Linked DNA regions of Homo sapiens. The protein of the gene in region 1 purifies or fractionates together with the protein of each later gene. This does not show direct contact. Each region holds a gene or a part of one and is shown on either strand. Other genes may lie near its edges.

Region 1 (3,500 bases):
ACATAAAAGGTGGTGTGGGCCAGGCGTGGTGGCTTACGCCTGTAATCCCAGCACTTTAGGAGGCCAAGGAAGGCGGATCACAAGGCCAGGAGATCGAGACCATCCTGGCTAACACGGTGAAACCCCGTCTCTACAAAAAAATACAAAAAAATTAGCTGGGCGTGGTGGCAGGCCCCTGTAGTCCCAGCTACTCGGGAGGCTGAGGCAGGAGAATGGTGTGAACTCGGAAGGCGGAGCTTGCAGTGAGCCGAGATTGCGCCACTGCACTCCAGCCTGGGCGATAGAGCGAGACTCTGCCCCCCGCCTCCCAAAAAAAAAGGTAGTGTGACCATCCTACAGATTGCTCTACAGCCACTAACAGACTAGGACAGAAGTATGAACAAACTTTAAAGGGTGGCCCCATTACACCAGCAAGTGAAGAAAGCTCACAGCAGGACGTTATGTGTAGCGTGATTGCTTTTTGTACAAAAACTAAGACAGATACATATAAATAAAAATAAGGCCAAACCAGAATCCAATGAGCACACTTACATCTGCCTCTGATAATATGTTCATGTTTGTGAACTGAAAACTTCTGAAAGGAGATGGTTATCTTTGGAAAGAACGATTTGGGTTAAGACATTTACTTACGACTTTAAGGCACAGTCAGGATGGGTGCTGTGGTCCACGCACTGTAAGAGCTTCACTGGTCTACAGAAAGAAAATAATATTTAAGGGATTATTTAAATAACTTTCATCCATCAACCATTTATGGCTTGCCTGAAAAGTCCTGGAGATACAGTAGTCTCTGACCTCAAATAATACACAAACTATTTCCTCTAAAAATATTAGTGGCCCAGCACGGTGGCTTACACCTGTAATCCCAGCACTTTGGGAGGTTGAGGCAGGAGGACTGCTTGAGACCAGGAGTTTGAGACCAGCCTGGGCAACATAGCGAGACCTTGGCTCTACAAAAAAAAAAAAAAAAAAAAATCTAAAAATTATCTGGGTGCAGACGCTCATGCCTATAGTCTCAGCTACCCAGGAGGCTGAGGCAGGAGGCCCAGGAGTTCAAGGCTGCAGTGAGCTATGATCGCACCACTGCACTCCAGCCTGGATAACAGAGTGAGGCCTTGTATCTAGAAAAACTAAAACAAATGAAAATATTAGCCAGCATTTATCAAGCACTTCCTACGTACCAAGACATTTGATTATATCTTTTGTAAGGATCATGTCATGTAATCCTCATAACAACCAAATGGAATAGGTGCTTTATCTTCTCCAATTTACAATTGAGAAAGCTGACCACAATAACCCACCCAAGTTCTCACAGTAGCAAGTTGAAGGGCTGAACTTGAACTATGCAGGCTGACTCTAGGGCCTGAGCTTCTAACCATTTCTGTATGCACGTACAACTCGTATGACCTGATAAGTACTTTGGGCAGAAGGTTGGACTTGAACCACATGGGTGATGGCCAATGCTCAGGCATCAGAGAGGAAAGCTAACTTGCTGTGCACAACAGAGGGAGAAGATGTGAAGTTCCAAGCCACCAGGAGGGGAAGGGAAGCAGCAATGAAGACAGGAGCCAGGTCTTGGTGGCACACGGGGAGTTAGGTAGGAGGCAAGCCTAGACAGGATCTCTGTGGCACGATCACTGCAGGGGACTATGGAAGAACAGGAACGTGATATTGTTGTCTCTATGGCATGCCATGTCTTCTGTCCTTGACTCAGCTACCTTTCAGTAGTGTCTACTTGATGCACATATTTTTATTTTTTATTATTATACTTCAAGTTCTAGGGTACATGTGCACAACGTGCAGGTTTGTTACATATGTATACACATGCCATGTTGGTGTGCCACACCTGTCAACTCGTCATTTACATTAGGTATGTCTCCTAATGCTATCCCTCCCCCCTCCCCCTACCCCACGACAGGCCCCAGTGTGTGATATTCCCTACCCTGTGTCCAAGGGTTCTCATTGTTCAGTTCCCACCTGTGAGTGAGAACATGCGGTGTTTGGTTTTCTGTCCTTGGGATAGTTTGCTCAGAATGATTGTGTCTAGCTTCATCCATGTCCCTACAAAGGACATGAACTCATCCTTTTTATGGCTGCATAGTATTCCATGGTGTATATGTGATGCACATATTTTTAATAAAAGTAGTTATCTGTCATTGTTTATGCCCAAAAACAGGTATGGAGTTTTCACTGAGTCTGATTCAACACAGTACTGGCAGAAACCAACCAGAAGGTAAGGGAGGCCATGAAAAGATAAGCCCCCTCCAAAATGGGCAAGAACCTCAGGGAGAACTTTCTACTGATGTGGGGCAGAAGGCAATGCCACCTGAATTGTGAGGGGCAGGAGTTTCTCACATCTGGGTTGGAGTTGGATTTGTTATGTTAACCCTCATCACTTTCCCATTTATACCTTTCATTATATCCTCTCTGCTCCTGACACTAACACAGAAACAGCCTATGGGCAATAAAGAAATGGGAGCTTCCTCATTTCTTTACTGAGTCAGGCCTGGAAGAGAAGAGCCCTGAGGCTGACTGAGGTAGGGACACAATAGAGAGGAAGCACATAAGCCCAGACCCAGGGCAGCCGTGAGGGGCAAGGAGACCTGGGCTCTGGCCCGGCTATTATAACTCAGCCCAATGACATAAAAACAAAGCAAAGTGGTTGTGAATGCAACAATTTTAGCTACAATTTTCTCCATCATTGAGCTTTTTGTTGTTGTTGTTTGTTTGTTTGTTTTTGAGGGGGCGATGGCTAGGGGTTTACTTTGTTTTATTTTGAGACCAGGTCCTGCTCTGTCACCCAGGCTAGAGTGCAGTGGCACCATCATAGCTCACTGTTCCCTTGAACTCCTGGGCTCAAGCAATCCTCCCACCTCAGCCTCCCAAATAGCTGGAACTACAGGTGCATGCCACTGCACTTGGCTATTGAGCTGTTTTGGATTAAGAACTGATTTTTTTTTTTTTTTTTGAGACAGAGTCTTGCTCTTGTCACCCAGGCTCTTGTCACCCTGGCTCACTGGAACCTCTGCCTCAAGTGATTCTCCTGCCTCAGCCTCCCGAGTAGCTGGGATTACAGGCACCAGTCACCACACGCGGCTAATTTTTGTATTTTTAGTAGAGACGGGGTTTCACCATGTTGGCCAGGCTGGTCTCGAACTCCTGACCTTGTTATCCGCCCGCCTCGGCCTTCCAAAGTGCTGGGATTACAGGTATGAGCCACTGCACTCGGCCAAGAATTGAATGTTTTTTAAAATGTACTACTGGAGCTTCAATTAAGGAAGGAAGAGCTTGGTAGCAGGAGGGAAAGAGCGTGCGTTAAGGCCATGCAAAGCTGGGTTCAAAACTCAGCTCTGTCACTGAGTTTAAAGCTTAAAGACAGATAAAACTAATTAATGGCATTATAAATCTAGAGAGTGGTTACTATGGGGGTGGTGACCAAAAGAGGCCAATGGGAGCCCCTGGGGATGCTGAGTATGTTCTGTTTATTGGTCTGAGGGCTGGTT
Region 2 (3,418 bases), on another chromosome or scaffold:
CTTTTTTTTTTTTTTTTTTTTTTGAGATGGAGTCTCGCTCTGTCACCCAGGCTGGAGTGCAATGGCGCCATCTCGGCTCACTGCAACCCCACCTTTCGAGTTCAATCGATTCTCCTGCCTCAGCCTCCCAAGTAGCTGGATCTACAGGTGCGTGCCACCACGCCCAGCTAATTTTGTATTTTAAGTAGAGATGGGGTTTCACCATGTTGTCCAGGCTGGTCTCGAACTCCTGACCTCAAGTGATCCACCTGCCTAGGCCTCCCAAAGTGCTGAGATTCCAGGCATGAGCCACTGCACCCAGCCTGCATCTGATTTATCTTTGAAACATCCAGGGACTAATAGAGTTCCTGAGACATGCAGGGCAAGTGTTCAGTGCAGATTTGCTGAATACATGAGTGTGTGGGTGGGTGACAGAACCACAATACAAAATGCTGCTCACCCAACCAGGAAGTCCACCCCCATCAGCCCCACCTCCAAGCCTCACCTTCCACAGGAGCAGCACCAGCAGTGCTAGCACCAGCAGCCCAGCCAGTACAGCCAGGAGGATGACCCACCAGGGCACTCCTTCTGCCACCACAGCCATGGGGTCCAAGTATACCATCACTGGGATCTGGGGAGCAAGGGGTCAATGGAGCAAGAGGTCAATGGAACAAGAACTGGAGGGAGCAGGAAAGAAGAGAGTCCTCCCCACCTATCCCCCAACCCTGCAGCTCACCACTGTGGAGGCATCTCGGAGCATCAAGTTCTTTATGGAGGACTTCACTGTGATGTTGGCCCGGACAATCACTTCCAGGGACTTCACAGCTGAGTACTCCTAAGGGAACAGGGAAGGAGACCCTTCTCCTAAATGCCCCATGTCTCCCTCCCTTCCCCTTACCTCCTGAAATTATAAATGTAATGGTGCCCAACACAGAGGATGTTTCTGCCTGGTTTGGGTTAAGAGTATGCTGCGTTTGGGCTGGGCACAGTGGCTCACACCTGTAATCCCAGCACTTTGGGAGGCCAAGGAGGGTGGATCACCTGAGGTCAGGAGTTTGAGATCAGCCTGGCCAACATGGCAAAACCCCGTCTCTATGAAAAATACAAAAATATCGGGTGTGGTGGCACGTGCCTGTAATCTCAGCTACTCAGGAGGCTGAGGCAGGAGAACCTCTTGAACCTGGGAGGCAGAGGTTGCAGTGAGCTGAGATCGCACCACTGCACTCCAGCCTGGGGGACAAAGGAAGACTCCGTCTCAAAAAAAAAAAAAAGGGGGGGGATGCTGCATTTGGACAGTGAGGAAGGAGGAGGAGAAATGAGTCCTGGAGGGGCTTTGGAGGAAGAAGAAACACAGACTAGAGCCGAGTGGTATCCTCACCTCCAGAAAGGTGCTGTTCCAGAGACGGCCCCAGACATGCAGCACAGCCGCGCGGTCAAAGCTGTAGAGTGGGCAGCTGAACACCACACAGTTGGCCGTGCCCCGGGCGCAGTCCTAGGGATAAGGACAGACAGGGGTCTAAGCCACTCAGCTCAACCCTGCTGAGACTGCCATCTCTCCCATTTTCCTTACTTGACCTCAAACTCCCCTCCTCCAGGAAGTCTTCTCAAACTAATCTTATATCCAAAATAGCTGCCTGCCCCAAATCTGAGCTATTCAGCTTTGAAATGCGTGGAGGGGGCAGCATGGAAGGGAATCTCTTACTTGACAGCACAGGCAGAGTAGCTTCCCCAAGTGATGCTTATGTTACCTAATGACAGTCCCATTTATTGAGCACCTACTACTTGTCAGGCACTTATCTCACTTAAGCTTCGCAATAGTCCTACAAGGTGCACATTATCATCCTCATTTTTCAAAGGAAGAAACTGAGGAGGCCCAAGGAGGCCAAGCGACCTGCCTCAGGTCACAGCACTAGCAAAGCTAATGAGTGGTGGAGCAAATATTTGAACTCAGGTCCATATTCGGCAAAGCCACACCCCTGCCCTAAACCCAAACTCGCTGAAGGAGGAGGAGGTAGCCTCAGGAGCTCCTGGGTAGACAGGGGACTCAGGCTCTGTTCTTTCCAGGACTGACCTAAATCCATTTGGCCCAATCACCACCTCACGACCCATTTGCCTGAAAGTTATGTTATATTCATCACACCACGATCCAGACACAGAAGAATGGCTTTAAGAGTGTCTGAATTATTTGAGTTATCTTTTATTTTGCCACTTTTGAGCCATTCAAGAATCCTTAGCCAAGCTGTCTAAAAGCAAGGCCTTCTGCCTTTTTAGTAAAAGAATCTACTTTAGTACTAGTACCAAAACAGAGATATAGATCAATGGAACAGAACAGAGCCCTCAGAAATAACGCCACATATCTACAACTATCTGATCTTTGACAAACCTGAGAAAAACAACCAGTGGGGAAAGGATTCCCTATTTAATAAATGGTGCTGGGAAAACTGGCTAGCCATATGTAGAAAGCTGAAACTGGATCCCTTCCTAACACCTTATACAAAAATTAATTCAAGATAGATTAAAGACTTAAATGTTAGACATAAACCATAAAAACCCTAGAAGAAAACCTAGGAATTACCATTCAGGACATAGGCATGGGCAAGGACTTCATGTCTAAAACACCAAAAGCAATGGCAACAAAAGCCAAAATTGACAAATGGGATCTAATTAAACTAAAGAGCTTCTGCACAGCAAAAGAAACTATCATCGGAGTGAACAGGCAACCTACAAAATGGGAGAAAATTTTCGCAACCTACTCATCTGACAAAGGGCTAATATCCAGAATCTACAATGAACTCAAACAAATTTACAAGAACAAAACAAACAACCCCATCAAAAAGTGGGCAAAGGACATGAACAGATACTTCTCAAAAGAAGACATTTATGCAGCCAAAAAACACATGAAAAAATGCTCACCATCACTGGCCATCAGAGAAATGCAAATCAAAACCACAATGAGATATCATCTCACACCAGTTAGAATGGCAATCATTAAAAAGTCAGGAAACAACAGGTGCTGGAGAGGATGTGGAGAAATAGGAACACTTTTACACTGTTGGTGGGACTGTAAACTAGTTCAAACCTTGTGGAAGTCAGTGTGGCGATTCCTCAGGGATCTAGAACTAGAAATACCATTTGACCCAGCCATCCCATTACTGGGTATATACCCAAAGGACTATAAATCATGCTGCTATAAAGACACATGCACACGTATGTTTATTGCGGCACTATTCACAATAGCAAAGACTTGGAACCAACCCAAATGTCCAACAATGATAGACTGGATTAAGAAAATGTGGCACATATACACCATGGAATACTATGCAGCCATAAAAAATGATGAGTTCATGTCCTTTGTAGGGACATGGATGAAATTGGAAATCATTCTCACTAAACTATCACAAGAACAAAAAACCAAACACCGCATATTCTCACTCATAGG
Region 3 (4,239 bases), on another chromosome or scaffold:
ACTTAATACTTTTATTGGAAAACCAGAACGCCTAACCACACATTTTGCCTAATCTTTCATGTAATTAACCTTCCACTAGTGCAAGTGTTGAAAGTAGAATACGCTATTCCCAAGTTTCAAGTTGAGGGAGGCGGGATTCCCAGGTTCTGGTTGTACATTCCCATTTTCACTGATCTGTTCAGTGGTCAATGGATTCTTGGGTTGCTTTCATGTCAGCTACTGTGAATAATCCTGCTATGAACATGGGTATACAAATATCTCTTGAAGGCTGGGTGGGGTGGCTCACACCTTCACCCTGGCACTTTGGGAGGCCGCAGAGGGCAGATCACCTGAGGTCAGAAGTTCAAGACCAGCCTGGCCAACATGGCGAAACCCCATCTCTACTAAAAATACAAAAATTAGCTAAGCATGGTGGCAGGTGCCTCTAATCCCAGCTACTCTGGAGGCTGAGACAGGAGAATCACTTGAACCCAGGAGGCAGATGTTGCAGTGAGCCAAGATCGCACCACTGCACTCCAGCCTGAGCGATGGAGCAAGACTCCATCTCAAAAACAAACAAAACTAAATCCCCCCAAAAAACCAAAAACAAATATCTCTTGAAGACCTTCCTTTCAGTTCTTTTGGGTGTATGCTCAGAAGTGGAATTGCAGCTGGGCGCGGTGGCTCATGCCTGTAATCCCAGCACTTTGAGAGGCCGAGGTGGGCGGATTACCTGAGGTCAGGAGTTGGAGACCAGCCTGGTTAACATGGCGAAACCCCGTCTGTACTAAAAATACAAAAATGAGCCAGGTGTGCTGGCGCGCGCCTGTAACCCCAGCTACTTGGGAGGCTGAGGCAGGAGAATCGCTTGAACCCAGGAGGTGGAGGTTGCAGTGAGCTGGGATCACGCCAATGCACTCCAGCCTGGGCGACAAGAGCGAAACTCCATCTCAAAAAAAAAAAAAATTGTTCCAGAGAAGTGAAGAGAGCCCAGCGGGAGCCCGCAGTGGGGACAGCCTGGGCAGAGACTTGGGGAGATCCCCATTCTGGGTGGAACGGGCCGAGGACCACTGTTTTCCCAAGAAGGTCCCATGAAGGAGCAGCCATGCCTCTAGGCCCCACCCGGCCTTCAGGGGGTCCCCAGGCTTTAAGGGGACTCCTGGCTCAGGGCCAGGCCCTTGGTGCTGGAGGAGGTTGTAGGTGGAGGACGGGGTCACCAAGAGGGCAGCCGGGACCCCTGGGCTGCAGACAAGAAAGGGACTGTGGGGTCCACCGGGTCTGGGCCACATCAAGAAGTGTGGTTGAAGACCCGCCCCTAGGGGCTGAAAGCCAGGGCGCTGCCAGGCATGAGAGGCCCCAAACAGCCCTTGGGCCCAGGAGGGTGAAGCTGGGAGTAGAGGGCAGAGCTCCCACCCCGCCCCGCCCCCAGGGGGCGCCCCGGGCCCGGCGCGAGAGGAGGCAGAGGGGGCGTCAGGCCGCGGGAGAGGAGGCCATGGGCGCGCGCGGGGCGCTGCTGCTGGCGCTGCTGCTGGCTCGGGCTGGACTCAGGAAGCCGGGTGAGCTCGGGGCGCTGCTGGCGGGATGGGGAGGCGGGGGAGCGGTGGGGAGGACGGGAGGTGGAGGCCGCGGGGAGTCACTTCTTGTCTCCCGCAGAGTCGCAGGAGGCGGCGCCGTTATCAGGTAGGGCGCCCAGGACGCGCGATTCCTGCCAGGGCCGTTGGGCCGAGGTGGACGGGGGGCGGTGAGGGGGTAGAGGGGGGCCTTTACTGCTCTCTCGCCCCCGCCCCCGGGATCGAGAACTCTGTTGGCGTGGAAAGTAACTAACGGACGCTGGAGGGGGATGGGCGGGCCCTGCAGAGCACGTGGGAGGATCTCCAGTGTCACCTACTTCCTGCTGCACACACGCGAGGGGACCCTGGGTGGGCAAAAACGTGCTTTCCCGGACGGGGTTGAAGGGGAGAAAGGGAGAGGTCGGGCTTGGGGGGCTGCCTCCCGCGGCTCAGCAGTTCCTCTGACCATCCGAGGACCATGCGGCCGACGGGTCATCACGTCGCGCATCGTGGGTGGAGAGGACGCCGAACTCGGGCGTTGGCCGTGGCAGGGGAGCCTGCGCCTGTGGGATTCCCACGTATGCGGAGTGAGCCTGCTCAGCCACCGCTGGGCACTCACGGCGGCGCACTGCTTTGAAACGTGAGTGGGGGTGCGAACGGAGGGGTGCGGGGACGGGCAGGAACAGGGCTGGAGGGAGTGCCACCGAACTTTACCTCTGGTCTGATGCCAGACTTGGGCGTGAAAGTTGTGCGTGGATGCGGCCTGGTGTTCTCCTGAGCCCCAGGCTGTGCTGCAGCCGGTTACACCCACTCCAGTTCCCTTTGGGTCTCCTGGAGGGAACCCTGTTCAGGTTATTCCAGAATGTTCTTCCAGAACATTTCCACACACTTTTGGGTATTCTCTCCCTTTTTCTTTCAACCCAAAGTTCACCACTGACCATCCCACCCTCATCCCCCCTCCTGGTGGACGGTGCGGTACAGTGTGGGGCACTGAGCCAAGGCCAGCACCCCCGGGCCGCTGTGTGGACTCCATCCTGCCAATCCCACATTGGCGTGGTGCATCTCCCCATTCCTCCTTGGGCTGCATGGGGGTGCCCCTGGAGGCCTTGGCTCAATGCAAGGCTCCTTGGGACAGCTCTGGGAGGTGACAAGACCCCACCCTTCTGCTGCAGGAGCAGGTCCTAGGACTTTGGTTGTGGTCTGTCTGGGCTCCTTCATTTCTGCAGGGGACCCTGGGTGTTAGCAAGTAGCAGCAACACCACAGTTTCCCCTCCTGCACTGGACCCCAGTTGTGCTCAGGTAGCCAGCCCTCCATCCAGGGCCCCTGACTGCTCTCTTCTCTTCTGCCAGCTATAGTGACCTTAGTGATCCCTCCGGGTGGATGGTCCAGTTTGGCCAGCTGACTTCCATGCCATCCTTCTGGAGCCTGCAGGCCTACTACACCCGTTACTTCGTATCGAATATCTATCTGAGCCCTCGCTACCTGGGGAATTCACCCTATGACATTGCCTTGGTGAAGCTGTCTGCACCTGTCACCTACACTAAACACATCCAGCCCATCTGTCTCCAGGCCTCCACATTTGAGTTTGAGAACCGGACAGACTGCTGGGTGACTGGCTGGGGGTACATCAAAGAGGATGAGGGTGAGGCTGGGGACAGGCGGGTCAGGGAGGAACTGTCTTTGTTCACCTGTTCCCCTGCATAGGCACAATAGCCCCCTGCTTGGTCTGGGGGTGCAGGCTATGCCCCTCTTGCTTGCAGTCTCTCCTCACCTGCCAGGGCAGGGACCAAACACCCAGTTCTCTCCCTTCCAGGGGCTGTGGGGGCCAGAAGGAGAGTGTGAGAGGGAGGCCAGTTTGGCGCAGGCCTGTGGGTGGTGCGGTGGTGGAGGGGTTCTGGAGGGCTTGGCGACATAAACCTCATACTTGGATTTATTCCTGCATCTTTCCACCTCCCCCAGTGCTCACCAATGCCCCAGGCATCAGGCTCCTGGGCTGCCTCTCCATGCCTCCCACACCCACCCTAGCTCTGGCCGATTCTCCTGCAGCACTGAGCCCATTCCTCTCCCCAGAAACTTCCAAGCCATGCTCAACCGCAGCTCCCACGGAAACCCCTCTGGGGGTTCCTCTGGTGGGCCTGCCCTGGCACCTGCGTGTCCCCCAACACACATGCCCTGAAAGAAGTGGGCCCAGCATCCGGAGGAGCCCCGGCAGCCCCAGACTGGGCGTGTTCCCTGTATCAGGAATCCCTTCCCTCTGCTCCCCTGTCTGGCCCGTCCCTGCATCATCCCACAACAGTAGTAACAATAACAAACGTGGTTCCTTGAGCACACGCTGTGTGCCTGGCACTGTTCTAGACATGGGGGCCCAGCAGTGAGCCAGGCGCGGCCTCTCCTCCTGCTGGAGCTCACCTAGGAATGAAGTTGGTAACGTTCTTATACCCATCTTACAGATGAGAAAACTGAGAGGGTTATGGAAATTGCCAAGAACTAGTAAATGGAGAAGTCAGGGCCCCTTGCCTTAGAGAGGGTAAGGGATGTCCCCAAGTCACACCCCGGCAGTTGGGAGTGGGGAACTCAGCACTGGAGCCGCCTCCCTCTGGAGGAGGGATCCTTTGCCTTCCCTGAGAAGGACCCTTGCTGCAAACACGAGTGGATATGAGCCAGGGGCACGGCCAGGCTGCCTCTGCCACCCTCTCTCCCCAGCCCAGG
Region 4 (2,751 bases), on another chromosome or scaffold:
CTACAAATTCTTTATATAGACAAGTCATGTTCCTGCAACTTTACTTAGTCCTAGTTTTCTTTATATATTAGTATCTTATGCTTGGAGTTTTGAAAGTTACATTCATCAGTACTGTCCATTTGAACAAACAGCCATGGAAATACAAACTTCTCAATCACTGCCAGCAAGAAAATAATGATAAATATTTCAGATCCATAAAGATACTTTTTAGATATGGTATGGGAAGACAGGGATATAACTAGTATACCAATCTAACTGGAAGAACAGCAAGTCAGAGATCTTATGACAATTAACTTCAGATAGTAAATGAACACTGTATGTTGAGGGAAAAACCTCTATGGGCCTACTTAAGTGCAGTAGCCAAGAGGCCCCTGAAGAGATATGTGACTTTGCTAGGTAATTTCCAGATGGTACATCTTTAGGAAAGGGAAATCAATAAGCCCTAAAAAGTACAGAAAAGGCTGATTCCCCACTTCTGACATTTTGATAGTCACATCAGTTTTTTGGTAGAACATGGTATAAAAAACAAAATTTCAACAAATTTAAAGAACAAATTGGCTTTTATTTAGTGATTCCTGAATTGGGCAGCAACCCCTCTAAAGATTTAGAAAAGGCATTCTGATGAGCTGAGCAGGGGAGGTGGGCTTTATAGGCAGAAAAAGGCTGATGAAAAAGTCCCAGAAACATGGAACAAAAAGCAGATTCGTCATTATAGTGTTACTTTCTTTGTCCAGTAAAAACAGAGGAGACTTCCTTATGCTGGTTCAGGTAAAATGAGCCCCTTCGGATTGGTTATTGTGATTCTCTTTTTTTTTTCTTCTAAAGTTCAGTTTGATTATGGGGCACCTACTGCCAGTGACCCCATTCTGGTTTGATGTGGTCTGTTGAGCCTGGTGTAGGAACTCAGTTCAAAACAATGGCCTCCCATAAATTTCATTTGACAATGGCCAATGAACAAGCAAGAGATGCCCATTACTCATCAGGATGAAAATGTAAAGACTTCCTTTTTCAGCCAAGAATCCTCCACTCTTCAAGTGAAGGGGGTTGGCCAGTTTGGCCCCCAAAGTATTATTTTGATAATAATTTTGCTATTTGTAACTGGGAAGGAGCCTTAGGGAGAAATAAATATTACTTATGGCTTTAGCACATATTTTATGTACTAAATGGGGACAAAGGATGAGTAAAACCCTGAATCTAAAAATGCTGCTTAAAAATTAATTCATAGAGTAGTGAAGCTGGCAGACATTTTTTAGAAGCTGTAAGAAGCATCAATTTTACAGTCACAGCTTCGTTGAAATCTCAGTTCTGCTACTTCTTAGCTGTGAGACCTCACACAGGTATCCAAATTTCTCTCATAGACTCCTCTGTAAAATGAGGATAATGGTACTATCTTGTGGGGTTGTGGTGAACATTAAATAATACATGTAAAATGTCAGGCTTCATAAGATAGGTGTTAATCCTTCAGAACAATGAGGTACAATGAGGTGTTGACTTCAAATTGGGAAAGATAACCATGAGTACTGAAAGATGCCCTGATCAGAGAAAACTGGTTTCAGTCATGAGACCCAGATCAAAAGCCTTAGGACACTTTCTCTGAAATTCAGCTGCTGATCTGCAAAGAGGCTGTTCCTCACATGGGCAACCTTTTGTAGATCGTCCTAGCATGAGAAGCAGCAGATATTCATTTATTTAACAAGGATTATTGGATATCTTGAGCAATGCTACATAGGGCAGTTCATTACACATAATATTACACTTAAAAATATATTAACAAACTTACCAAAGAGTTGAGGCAATATTGATGCACCATCCGAATAGGCTATATATTTCCAGTGGTTAGTTCGAAGCATGTAGGTGGAGGCATTCACATTACATCCATGGAATTCACTCAGAATCCAGGGTGGATGCAGGTTTTTGACTTTATGTTCATTCTTAAATGTTTCTGATGATAACGGCAACAAAGAGTATCCACTCAGGTTCTGAGGCAGAGGAATTCCAGCAATATCTATGTAACAAAAATAACCAAATATCTTAAAATAGCTCATTCTTTTATTAGCTGAACATTCACAAATAGCATCATTCACATTTTTTTCATACCATTAAATGCCATGGAGACTGGAGATTGTATATGGATTTTGTAAACAGGCTGCCAAAATTCACATGCTTACCCCACTGGCCATGTGGACTTCAGCAAGTAATTTACTTATCTCAACCTCAGTTTTCTCATCTGTAAGAAGGGGATGACCACAGTACTTGTATTTATTAGGTTCATTTTAGGTTTAAATAAGATACTTTATGTAAAATTCTAAGAACTCTGAGGACAATGCCTGGCAGATAGGAGCCTTCAACAAATAGTTAATATCACTATTCCTTTTTTCTCTAAATGATTAAATAATCATAGTTGTTTCTCAAAGTTTCTTTCATGGGATATTAACAAGTCTTATACAAGAAAGGGGTTTAGTAGTCTTATATGTTTGCAAAACAATGGTTAAACAAAATTAAATACATAAGTTTGTTGTAGATGTAAATTTATTGCTGATGTATATGATAAACCTTCAGGAGTGGTATATAGTATACTATGTGCCCCAAAGTTATGTGATAACAGAGCTTTTTACATTCTCAAGTAGCATCTTGAGGGACTAGCATCTTGAAAAACATGCTTTCAGGAATTGTGGATTATATTTAGGAAGGGAAAAATAATTTTTAACTTACCAAATGTAGACATATAGAACAACAGCATGAGAAATGTTC
Region 5 (3,500 bases), on another chromosome or scaffold:
GACCCCAGGAGTTTGAGTCCAGCCTGGGCAACATAGTGAGATCCTGCCTTTTAAAAATAAACAAACAAACAAATAAATAAAGTGACTCTTTCATATGTACTGACATGAAACAAAGACATGGAAAGATTACTTAGATACACCAATAAGTTAGGGGGAAAGTTGCCTGAGTTATACATATTTGTAAAATTTTATGAGCATATATAGGTTTCATAATCAGTAAAAATGTTTTTAAAGATTTTGAAAACAAAGCAGCTGCATGGCAGGTGGGAAAAGAGCTACAAAAAGAAGAATGTGAAAAGGGTATTTGCAAGTACCTGAGGAGGGGGGGAAAGGATTAGAAAATTAAGGCCAAGGCCAAGAATAACTTAGGGAAAAAAAAGTTTAAAACCTTTTTTCCAGCTTAGTGTGGTGGCTCATGCCTGTAATCCCAGCACTTTGGAGGCCAAGGTGGGAGGATCACTTGAGCCCAGGAGTTTGAGATCAGGCTGGGAAACATAGCAAGACCTGTCTCTACAAAAAATTTTAAAAAACAACCAAGAAACAAAAAAACCACACCTTTTTCCCCCCCTCTCAAAATTATGTTCAAAACCCAAAAATAAACAAGAAATGACAGTCTCAATGTCAGGAAAACACAAGGAATATTAACCAGTAAAGTAGGTTGGATAATGCACTTGGAAACCTGGTCTTTAGGCCTAGATTTGCTTCTGACCTTGACCAGATCACTAAACCTTTCTGTACCTTCATTCCCTTATCCCTGAAATAAAGGGCTGGACAAAGACAATTTCTAGTTCCAGTTCTGTAAAATATGAGACTAAGTTATTATTTTTTAAAATTTCCAAATTATACCCACTAGAGAAGTTTGTTTTTTAACAAAGGGCTCTACCCACCACTGAGGACTGCAGCCCTGTACGTTTCTTCAGGAAGGGAATATTACCTTAATCCTCTTTGAATCTTCAGCCACACTTGGGAGAGGTGATAGGTATTTATGGAAACAAGGTTGAATTGTTTGCTTTCCTTATACCTGAGAGAAGGCCTATAATGACTGTGTTTCCGGAAGTTCTCTAATTAAGCACCAAAGTTGTTTGAATCATGATGTAAAATGTAGCTAGGTAAGAAATACCTACAGCTTGGATGAGCTACACAATCTAAATTCTGAAATGATAGCAGGATGGAGTCAACAGGCCAAGGCATGTCTCAGTCATGAATCAGAGAGGATCTGGAATAAGCTTGTACTTGAGATGCTTATGGGACATTTATGCTCCCTCAGCCCTGCCTAAACTACTTAGCTCTCAATTGCCAAGTATGTTTATATTCTTCCAAATAATTTTCTATCCCCCCTATGACGAGGTCATTCATTTTTTCTTACTATGAAAGAATGCACTCTTATTTAAAGAATCTTAAGTATAGAAAAATTGAAAATACTGACTGAGCACAGGGGCTCGTGCCTGTAATCCCAGCACTTTGGGAGGCCGAGGTGGGTGGATCACTTGAGGCCAGGAGTTCCAGACCAGCCTGGGCAACATGGCAAAACCACATCTCTACTAAAAATACAAAAAATTAGCCAGGTGTGGTGGCACATGCCTGTAATCCCAGCTACTCGGGAGGCTGAGGCAAGAGAATTGCTTGAACCTGGGAGGCAGAGGTTGCAGTGAGCCGCGATAGCACCACTGCACTCCAGCCTGGGAGACAGAACATGACTGTGTCGCAAAAAAAAAAAAAAAGAAAGAAAAATTTAAAATACAAAACAAAAGTCTCTGATAATCCCTTGCAAAGAGGCATTGCTGATAGTTTAGGATAGACTATTCTGCCCCTTTCTATGGATATGTAAATATTATTAGACACGTACAAAATTGTTTACACTACAGTTTTCTGTCTTTAATTTTTAACTTAAAAATTAGTCACTTAAAAATAAATAGGCTGGGCGCGGTGGCTCACGCCTGTAATCCCAGCACTTTGGGAGGCTGAGGTGGGCAGATCACCTGAGGTCAGGAGTTCAAGACCAGCCTGACCAACATGGAGACACCCCGTCTCTACTAAAAATACGAAATTAGCCGGGTGTGGTGGCACATGCCTGTAATCCCAGCTACTCGGGAGGCTGAGGCAAGAGAATCACTTGAACCTGGGAGGCGGAGGTTGCGGTGAGCTGAGATCACGCCATTGCACTCTAGCCTGGGCAAAAAGGGCGAAACTCCGTCTCAAAAAAAAAAAAAGTAAATAATTGGTTATATTCTATGGCTTATTTCAAGAAAACCCAGAAAGAGAAAAAATAAAACCTCTTTAAAGGACCTACCTTACCAGATCTTCTCTGAAGAGGTCCCACCGTCCAAGACCTGTAGGATAAATTGGCCAAACAGCAGGTCCCCCTTCCCAAAATGTCCAAGCAGGATACATGATATCATGGTACTCTGATGTCTTCAACAAAAACAGACAGGTCGTCCTAAATCAGTCTTGGAACAGTGAAAAGAGGCAACTGCAATCATGCCACAGGATCTGGACAGCCTTGGTTTAGTGTCACATTGTCAAAGATATATTTTCCCTATTTTCCAAAGTCTAGCCTGTAGACATTAAAAGGCAAAAGTGACTATGGATTAAAAGTCATGGGCTCACTGAATTCCAGAATTCAGAATCACATTAAAGGTCAGCTTTTTCAGTTCCCCCAAATTCTGTTTTTCTAGAGGATATATACTGTTAAGATTTCCAATTTAAGGAAACAATATGCCCAATTCTGAATAATCACAGAGCTCTCTCATTGTTTAACTATTACATTTAAGAGTTTACACTGTCTTACCAGTTTTTGGTTATTTCCCAATGGGTTTTTTTGAGAGTAAGAGCCAAGAAATACATGCAATGGTTAAGAGTGTGGGCTCCTGATGTGGATCACATGGGTTTGGATTCTGACTCCACCTCTTTACAGCTCTAGGCAAGTTACTTAATGGTTCTATGCCTCAGCTTCCTTATCACTGTAATGGGGGAAACAATAATATCAATAATATGATCTAACTAAAAGGTTTATTTTGAATATTAAATGAGTTGATACACGTAAAATTCTTAGAACAGTAGCTGGCACATTGTACATACTTGATAAATATTGGCTAGTGTTATCTCATACTATGGCACTGTTGGGCTCACATTGATTGGTCAATAAATTCTTGGTTATTCACTGATCGGGGTCAGAAGTATGGATGAGCAAAATGAGAAGGGGTGTTATCACATATCTTTTGAAAGAAGTTTGAGGTTGGGCACGGTGGCTCACACCTGTAATCCCAGCACTTTGGGAGGCCGAGACGGGTAGATCACCTGAGGTCAGGAGTTTGAAATCAGCCTGGTCAACATGGTGAAACCCTGTCTCTACTAAAAAATACACACAAAATAATAGCCGGGCATGGTGGCAGGTGCCTATAGTCCCAGATACTCAGGAGGCTGAGGTGGAGAATCACTTGAACCTGGGAGGTGGAGGTTGCAGTGAGCTGAGATCGCGCCACTGCACTCCAGCCTGGGCA
Region 6 (3,500 bases), on another chromosome or scaffold:
TGCAGTTCACTTAGAACTGCAAATCAAGCCAATAGTTGGAAATGCCTACTCCACTTTTTAACCTTACTTAAAGCGATTGCATTTGAAGTTGATAAATTATGAAATTTGGGGGAAGTCCCTCTGAGAAGTTACCAAGCAGATTCCAAACACTGGCAGTGAGATAGTTCCTGGGAGGGAAAGAAACACAAATCTGTTTCTTGACCACAGAATGTTTTACATCCTAGTCCATGTCTTCCCATAACAGAATACAGTGCAATTTCCAGTGCTGGAATGGGGGCGTCCATTACTGGCAACTGTGAAGCCCTTTGATTCGTTTCAATTTTGTGACACCTTCTGCTTTACTCCATAGAGTGCTATTTAGGTTTATTTATTCAATAAGTTAAAATTAATTTTGTTTTGACAGTTTTAAGGATGGCTTTGAGTCATGGGGTGCTGAAAAAAAGTTTGGTTGAAGGTGTAGATGGAACCTGCCTGTCTGAATCCTTTGTCTACTTGACTGAGGCAAGTAAACATAACCCGAGCCACCCCATCAATGAGTTTACTTTCAACAAAAACATTTTTTTCCCCACTTTTGCTGAAAGATGAAACGACCCAGGCAAAATCTTAGGGTGTGTCATTTGACACCAATGACAAATAACTGACCCAAACCACAGGCTAACCCAAAGTGTAGCCAAGCTCAAGAATTTCACGCAGCATAGTTTTTGGTAGTTATTGGAAGTGTATACTTTCTCCAGAGAACCTTTACATAAATACCTGTAATTCCATTAGATAGAAAGTACACATTTAGTTATTTAAACTTACGGTCTAGCCGACAGCTTCAAGTCAGGAACACACAGATTGTCTTCTCCACAGTCCACCAGAATGTGAGCCTGTGTTGTATAAACGCACGTCAGGAACAATCTAGGAAAATCTGATTCACATCCTTTTTCTTGAAAATTCTGAATGGTGCCACAAACGGAACCAGAGCTTTCCTCTCACTATGCATGACTCTACCCAAGCCAATAGCCTACATTTCACAGTGACCTCCCAATACAGGCTACTTTACATAATAGCCCAATTCCAATGCACTCTGAAATATCTGCAAAGAATGCAACTCTGCCTATGGCTTGAGGATTACAGGCTGTATTGCTTCCATTACAGCCACATTTTGAACAAATTAAATCTTGATTGCACAAGAGGAAAGGCTTCCGAAAAACACAATCATGCAGTGTTTCAGGAAACATGGTAGGAAAACTCCCAAATGTTCCATGTCTGCATGCAGAAGTAAAAATGAAAGGAGCTGGCTTTAGTCTTAAAGCCATGAGAACAACACCCCAGAGAGCTTGCTTGAGAAAATGCCGTCAAAGACTGTGAAGGACTTACCTGTTCACTAACAATGTTTTCTCTGTAGTAGTTCAATATTGGTTTCACTTCCAGGCCTTCTTTAAAGGTGGATTCGTCCAAACTGTAATTCAAACTAATGTTGATTGGAGATAATTTATCTCGGAATTCAGTTTCATCCTAGGAAAAATAATCACAAACTCAACAGAGGCTCCATGAAATAGCTGCAAGATGTCAGTCTGCAAAAGTCAGGCAACACTGGAATTTACTCAATGAAAGTGAATGATGAAACAATTATCTTTGCAGCAGGCTTAGATGGAGGCTGATTTATGTGGTATATAGTAGCCAGCATACCTAATATATGTGCAGTGATGAAATCATTTAGAGCTGCGGCTTCATTGAAATACGCTTCTGGAGCCAATCTTTGGGTTCTCCAGACCTTCAACAACTCATGCAGAACTGGTCAAGTTGCAAAGTAAAAGATTACACGTGTATATCATAAATGTCACAAAAAACATCATGAATTTGGATTTTTATTTTCGTGAGGTTGCCAGAATTTATGAGTTCTCTCTTGGGGCTCAGAAGAAGAAAACATCTTGATTCTCTTCCTCTCATCATCTTTTTAAGCCCTTGCCTGCATGAACTTCAGAACACCTTCAGGATATTTGAAGTTCTTTTGGAAAAAGAAACAGAACTCCTTTAGTAGAGAGGGGTAAGCACCAAACAGCAAGCACTAAACACACGGTGGATATGTCACCCTTCAATTGTTTGCCAATCAAGGGTCAGGTATCCAACTTTTCATTCTTGAGTGTGATTGTGAACCTGTGATCTTCCCTAGGGTGGTCCTTGCTAACTAAGTCCCCTAATGGAAAAGAGAAATTGAGACAGTTATCACAACCTCACAACCGGCAAGGTGAAGATAGGTAATTGTGTTATAAATATTTTTACTTTAAAATTTCGGTAGGTTTTGAAGTCATTGTAAAAAGACATTACTTTAAATAAGATAATTATAAGTTACTTCTAATAAAAGCTTTGAATGCCTAAATATTTTCCTGAATTGGCTCTGAAACATGCATTGATAAAATCTAACAAGACATACTCACATAGGAGAAAAATTCACATAAACTGTGTTGCACTTTTATGTATTTTGGGGAGGAGGTGGGTAGAAATGAAAACCATGTGAGCTGAATGCCATTATAAAGATTTTGATCAAAATGAAAAGAAGCCTTAGAAATTAATAGCAACACATCATCAGGTTAGTTGAAGTCAGGGTCAAGAGGAGAGTATTTGACCCTAAAATAAAGTTTCCTGCTATGAAAATGAAAACAGACAGATGGGGGTCTATGCAGACAAACATGATGGTTAAATGGAGAAAAATGGTTGGAATTTGGATATGAAGGAGAGAGGCCAGAGAAGTCTTTCTGGAATACTTACTCGAAGGTAAACGATGAAATCCTGGCACTGGTGGGATTTCTGCCTTTTTATCACAAGAGGGAAGACGCGATGAGCCTGATGGTTATCAAGGAAGAGCGTCCGTTTAATAGCTCCTTTCTGTTTCAGGGAATCTAATTGCACCTCTGCCATCAAGACTAAAGGACAGAAGTAAAGTAGAGAAAAAGTATTCAGTGAACACAGTGCTCTATCAGAGAGATGAATTTCTATTTCAAGTTGCTTATTCAGGAAACAGTTCTTTTTCATAGTTGAGACCAAGCATGATAAATGAGCTGGAAAAATTGTATAACATACTCTCCAAGCTACAAATGTTTTATAATGGTTTTATAAAAGTTGTCATTTTCCCTACAATTATATGTTCTTATAAATAATAGTATTACCAAGTATTGAAGTAATATTTATTAGAAGGTTCCATATATGCAACAGATATCTTGGTATTCCTCAAGGGTTCTTTCATTTTTTTATGGTCTGTGCAGAGAAATGGTTACTGTTCAACTTTCTTAGTATACCATAAGAATGTAAAAATGAAAACATGCTTACCTATTGTGTTTGCAATGCTCTGGCCTGTGACAGATGCACATACTCTTAAAGAAAAGCTATAGAAAATAGTAGTAATTTATTGGTTAATAAAGTTTTGAATCTAAAGTAGAAGCCTTCCTTTACCTAATCCCAGATAACGAATATCATTTTCTCTATATATTTCTAATTACACACACACACACACACAC
Region 7 (3,500 bases), on another chromosome or scaffold:
CCTCCCAGGTTCAAGCAATTCTCCTGCCTCAGCCTCCTGAGAAGCTGGGATTAAAGGCACCTGCCACCACGCCCGGCTACTTTTGTATTTTTAGTAGAGACAGGATTTCACCAGGTTGGTCAGAATGGTCTTGATCTCTTGACCTCGTGATCCATCCACCTCGGCCTCCTTAAGTGCTGGGATTACAGGTGTGAGTCACCGCGCCTGGCCAATTTTTTGTATCTTTAGTAGAGGGTTTCGGTATGTTGGCCAGGCTGGCCTTGAACTCCTGACCTCAAGTGATCCACTCACCTCAGTCTCCCAAAGTGCTGGGATTATAGGCATGAGCCACTGCACCCAGCCCTCAGCTTTGTCTTTTTAATAGCTGTTTGACCTGGACAACTGGATCAACTCTCTGAGCCTAGTTTGCTCATCTATGAGAAGGGATGATAATAGAATCTACTTTCAGGCTGTGAGGGCAGACAGCATCAATTCAGCCTGGTCAGCACCCGTGCTGCACTAATGGTTAAAAATGTGTATTTTCGGCAAGGCTCGTTGGCTCACGCCTGTAATCCCAGCATTTTGGGAGGCTGAGGCGGGTGGATCACCTGAGGTCAAGAGTTCAGGACCAGCCTGGCCAACATGGAGAAACCCCCATTTCTACTAAAAGTACAAAAATTAGCCAGGTGTGGTGGCAGATGCCTGTAATCCCAGCTGCTTGGGAGGCTGAGGCAGGAGAATCGCTTGAACCTGGGAGGCAGAGGCTGCAGTGAGCCAAGATCGCGCCACTGCACTCCAGCCTGGACAACAAAGTGAGACTCCATCTTAAAAAAAAAAAAAAAAAGGTATATTTTCACCCTTGCCTACATCAGGGCTTTTGTGATTACAGGAGACGACATATGCAAAATATCTAGAAGCGCGCCCAACCCATGTTGGGTGCACAATAACTGCTACTTTAAAACGTTCCCTGCCCAAGGCCACACAGCTAGTAAGAGGTAGAATTATAAGATTCAAACTCGGGCCAGGCATGGTGGCTTATGCCTGTAATCCCAGCAATTTGGGAGGTCGAGGCAGGTGGATCACCTGAGGTCAGGAGTTCAAGACCAGCCTGGCCAACATGGTGAAACCCCTTCTCTACTAAAAATACAAAAAGTAGCCAGGCATGGTGGCACATGCTTGTAATCCCAGCTACTCGGGAGGCCGAGGCAGGAGAATCGCTTGAACCCGGGAGGCAGAGGTTGCAGTGAGCCGAGATCGTGCCATTGCACTCCAGCCTCGGCAACAGAGTGAGACTTTATCTCAAAAACAAACAAAAAAAACATTCAAACTCACATCTATTCGACCCCAGGTCCCCTTTCCACTGGGGGGACCAGGGGAGGACACATTCAAGCTGGACCTTGAACAACTGGCAAGACTTTTAGGGAAAGTAAAAAGCCTAAGTGAATTGGGCCCCATGACGAAGGGGCTGGCGAACACAGGAAAATGAACTCACCCCTTCCCCTGTCTGAGAAGCAAGCTGGCCCACTACAAGGGCCCTGCTGGAACAGGGCTGCTGTCCCTGTCCCAGCCTGGAACCCTCAGATCACAGCAAGAGCCAAGGAGGTCTAGGTCACCCAGGGGAGCAAAGAGCCGGGTGCAGGAGGTCGCCTACCTTTGCCATGACCGTTGCCTAGGTTCTGGTCGTTGGCGCTGTTGGAGTAGTAGAAGCCGTTGTAGAAGGGCAGTCCGTAGGAGCCGGGCAGCAGGAGCAACGGGACCAGGAGCAACAGGCCCATCTCCTCATGCCAGGGTGACCCGGGCCAGGCTGGGGCCCCAGGGCAAACTGGGAAGGGGAGGAAAACAAGGCAATTAGAAAAGCCTGGCTTCCAGGGCCCACATCCCCTCTGCTCCAACACCACTCACTCGCTTGCTCAACAGCTCACTGCGGGACACCTGCCGCCTACGTGCCAGACGCTGTTCCCGGAGCTGAGAAGACAGCAGTGACAAGCTAGATGGGGTTCCTGCTTTCAGGGAGCTGTACCCCGAAGGCAAGACGGGAGATCAGCAAAGAGACAAATCATAAGAAGGAAGTATCAGGCAGCTAAAAGCAGAGAAAATTAAGCAGGATGATATGACAGGCTCAATGTTTTTCAAGCCAGAATTTGAAAGGTTATGGGCAGGCTGGGCATGGTGGCTCACGCTTATAATCCCAGGACTTTGGGAGGCTGAGGCGGGCGGATCACCTGAGGTTGGGAGTTTGAGGCCAGCCTGGCCAACATGGAGAAACCCCGTCTCTACTAAAAATACAAAATTAGCCAGGCATGGTGTCACATGTCTGTAATCCCAGCTACTCGGGAGGCTGAGGCAGGAGAATCGCTTGAACCCAGGAGGCAGAGGTTGTGGTGAGCCAAGATCATGCCATTGCACTCCAGCCTGGGCAACAAGAGTGAAACTCTATCTCAAAAAAAAGAAAAAAGAAAGAAAAGAAAAGAAAGGTATGAGCAGCACTTTTTAATGACGCCAAATAAACTAGACTAGAATAGAAAATATCAGGGTGAATAGAGGGTATGTTAAGTAAAGATGAGTCCTGCATTGTGAACCCTTTTTTTTTTTTTTTGAGACAGAGTCTCGCTCTGTCGCCCAGGCTGGAGTGGAGGTTGCTCACTGCAACCTCCGCCTCCTGGGTTCAAGAAATTCTCCTGCCTCAGCCTCCCGAGTAGCTGGGACTACAGGTGCGTGCCACCAAGCTCAGCTAATTTTTTGTAATTTTAGTACAGACGGGGTTTCACCGCGTTAGCCAGGATGATCTCAATCTCCTGACCTAGTGATCAGCCCGCCTCGGCCTCCCAAAGTGCTGAGATTACAGGCATAAGCCACTGCGCCCAACTCAAAAATAATTTTTGAACACCATGCTAGAGGTCTTGGGAGCTATTCCAGTTTGGGTGGGCGCTCAAAAGAGGTAGCCAACCCATGGGCTGTAGTTTGATGATTTGATTTTTTTTTAAATATTGTATTCAAATATTTTGTCTTGATTACTAAGATTTCTAGCAAACTCCCTTCCTCCCCCGCTTAAATCTCACACCAAGGGCTACTGCCTCACTCATGTCACCCTAGCCCTGCTCACCTGCCATTTACTGCGTGCTCTCAACAATTAAAAGATGGGGTCACTCCTTGAAGGAGCTTGGTCCAGGGAGGGGGCAGAGTCGTGGGCAGGCAGTCTTGATTGCTGTGTGTTGAGTACCACGATGGAGGTACAGAAACGGGAATGTCCAAATGAGACTGAAGATGCAGGAGTTTGCCAGGTGGAGAAGGACTGACAGGTTTATCCAGTAGGGCACTGCCACTACAAAGGTGCAGATGCCAGCAAGAGTCCCAAGCCTGGGGGTGCTGGGGGTATACAGGAGGTCCTCCATTTGCCCCACACACCCACCAGGTCCATCGTCTGTCCTTCTCTGACACGTATTGGTCCCTGTTGTCCCAGTTCCCCAGGCCTTCTGGCTTCCAGTGGGATTGAGCCAATGGGAGGCACTCAGAGAAGATGG

What was found.
Region 2: the proteins of BST1 (region 1) and ITGA7 purify together in Homo sapiens (affinity purification with mass spectrometry; one large-scale study listed by BioGRID and IntAct). This does not show direct contact.
Region 3: the proteins of BST1 (region 1) and PRSS21 purify together in Homo sapiens (affinity purification with mass spectrometry; one large-scale study listed by BioGRID and IntAct). This does not show direct contact.
Region 4: the proteins of BST1 (region 1) and ARSK purify together in Homo sapiens (affinity purification with mass spectrometry; one large-scale study listed by BioGRID and IntAct). This does not show direct contact.
Region 5: the proteins of BST1 (region 1) and POGLUT1 purify together in Homo sapiens (affinity purification with mass spectrometry; one large-scale study listed by BioGRID and IntAct). This does not show direct contact.
Region 6: the proteins of BST1 (region 1) and ITGA8 purify together in Homo sapiens (affinity purification with mass spectrometry; one large-scale study listed by BioGRID and IntAct). This does not show direct contact.
Region 7: the proteins of BST1 (region 1) and HAPLN3 purify together in Homo sapiens (affinity purification with mass spectrometry; one large-scale study listed by BioGRID and IntAct). This does not show direct contact.

What each region holds. Positions count from the first base shown.
Region 1 is NC_000004.12:15,720,065-15,723,564, reverse strand, and holds part of BST1 (ADP-ribosyl cyclase/cyclic ADP-ribose hydrolase 2 precursor), read right to left. Parts: intron 691-3,500; coding exon 631-690; intron 131-630; coding exon of another isoform or gene 109-130; exon of another isoform or gene 1-108. UniProt on the Homo sapiens protein: Catalyzes both the synthesis of cyclic ADP-beta-D-ribose (cADPR) from NAD(+), and its hydrolysis to ADP-D-ribose (ADPR).
Region 2 is NC_000012.12:55,687,487-55,690,904, forward strand, and holds part of ITGA7 (integrin alpha-7 isoform 2 precursor), read right to left. Parts: intron 1,472-3,418; coding exon 1,358-1,471; intron 815-1,357; coding exon 716-814; intron 611-715; coding exon 485-610; intron 1-484. UniProt on the Homo sapiens protein: Integrin alpha-7/beta-1 is the primary laminin receptor on skeletal myoblasts and adult myofibers.
Region 3 is NC_000016.10:2,815,798-2,820,036, forward strand, and holds the start of PRSS21 (testisin isoform 1 preproprotein), read left to right. Parts: upstream 1-1,439; 5' UTR 1,440-1,471; coding exon 1,472-1,535; intron 1,536-1,632; coding exon 1,633-1,659; intron 1,660-2,003; coding exon 2,004-2,169; intron 2,170-2,879; coding exon 2,880-3,172; intron 3,173-4,239. UniProt on the Homo sapiens protein: Could regulate proteolytic events associated with testicular germ cell maturation.
Region 4 is NC_000005.10:95,600,101-95,602,851, reverse strand, and holds part of ARSK (arylsulfatase K precursor), read right to left. Parts: intron 2,006-2,751; coding exon 1,781-2,005; intron 1-1,780. UniProt on the Homo sapiens protein: Catalyzes the hydrolysis of pseudosubstrates such as p-nitrocatechol sulfate and p-nitrophenyl sulfate. Catalyzes the hydrolysis of the 2-sulfate groups of the 2-O-sulfo-D-glucuronate residues of chondroitin sulfate, heparin and heparitin sulfate.
Region 5 is NC_000003.12:119,478,963-119,482,462, reverse strand, and holds part of POGLUT1 (protein O-glucosyltransferase 1 precursor), read right to left. Parts: intron 3,287-3,500; exon of another isoform or gene 2,789-3,286; intron 2,556-2,788; exon of another isoform or gene 2,413-2,555; coding exon 2,291-2,412; intron 1-2,290. UniProt on the Homo sapiens protein: Dual specificity glycosyltransferase that catalyzes the transfer of glucose and xylose from UDP-glucose and UDP-xylose, respectively, to a serine residue found in the consensus sequence of C-X-S-X-P-C.
Region 6 is NC_000010.11:15,604,923-15,608,422, forward strand, and holds part of ITGA8 (integrin alpha-8 isoform 1 preproprotein), read right to left. Parts: intron 3,369-3,500; coding exon 3,313-3,368; intron 2,910-3,312; coding exon 2,755-2,909; intron 1,501-2,754; coding exon 1,363-1,500; intron 870-1,362; coding exon 802-869; intron 1-801. UniProt on the Homo sapiens protein: Integrin alpha-8/beta-1 functions in the genesis of kidney and probably of other organs by regulating the recruitment of mesenchymal cells into epithelial structures.
Region 7 is NC_000015.10:88,885,545-88,889,044, forward strand, and holds part of HAPLN3 (hyaluronan and proteoglycan link protein 3 isoform 2 precursor), read right to left. Parts: exon of another isoform or gene 1,882-3,500; intron 1,802-1,881; coding exon of another isoform or gene 1,755-1,801; coding exon 1,631-1,754; intron 1-1,630. UniProt on the Homo sapiens protein: May function in hyaluronic acid binding.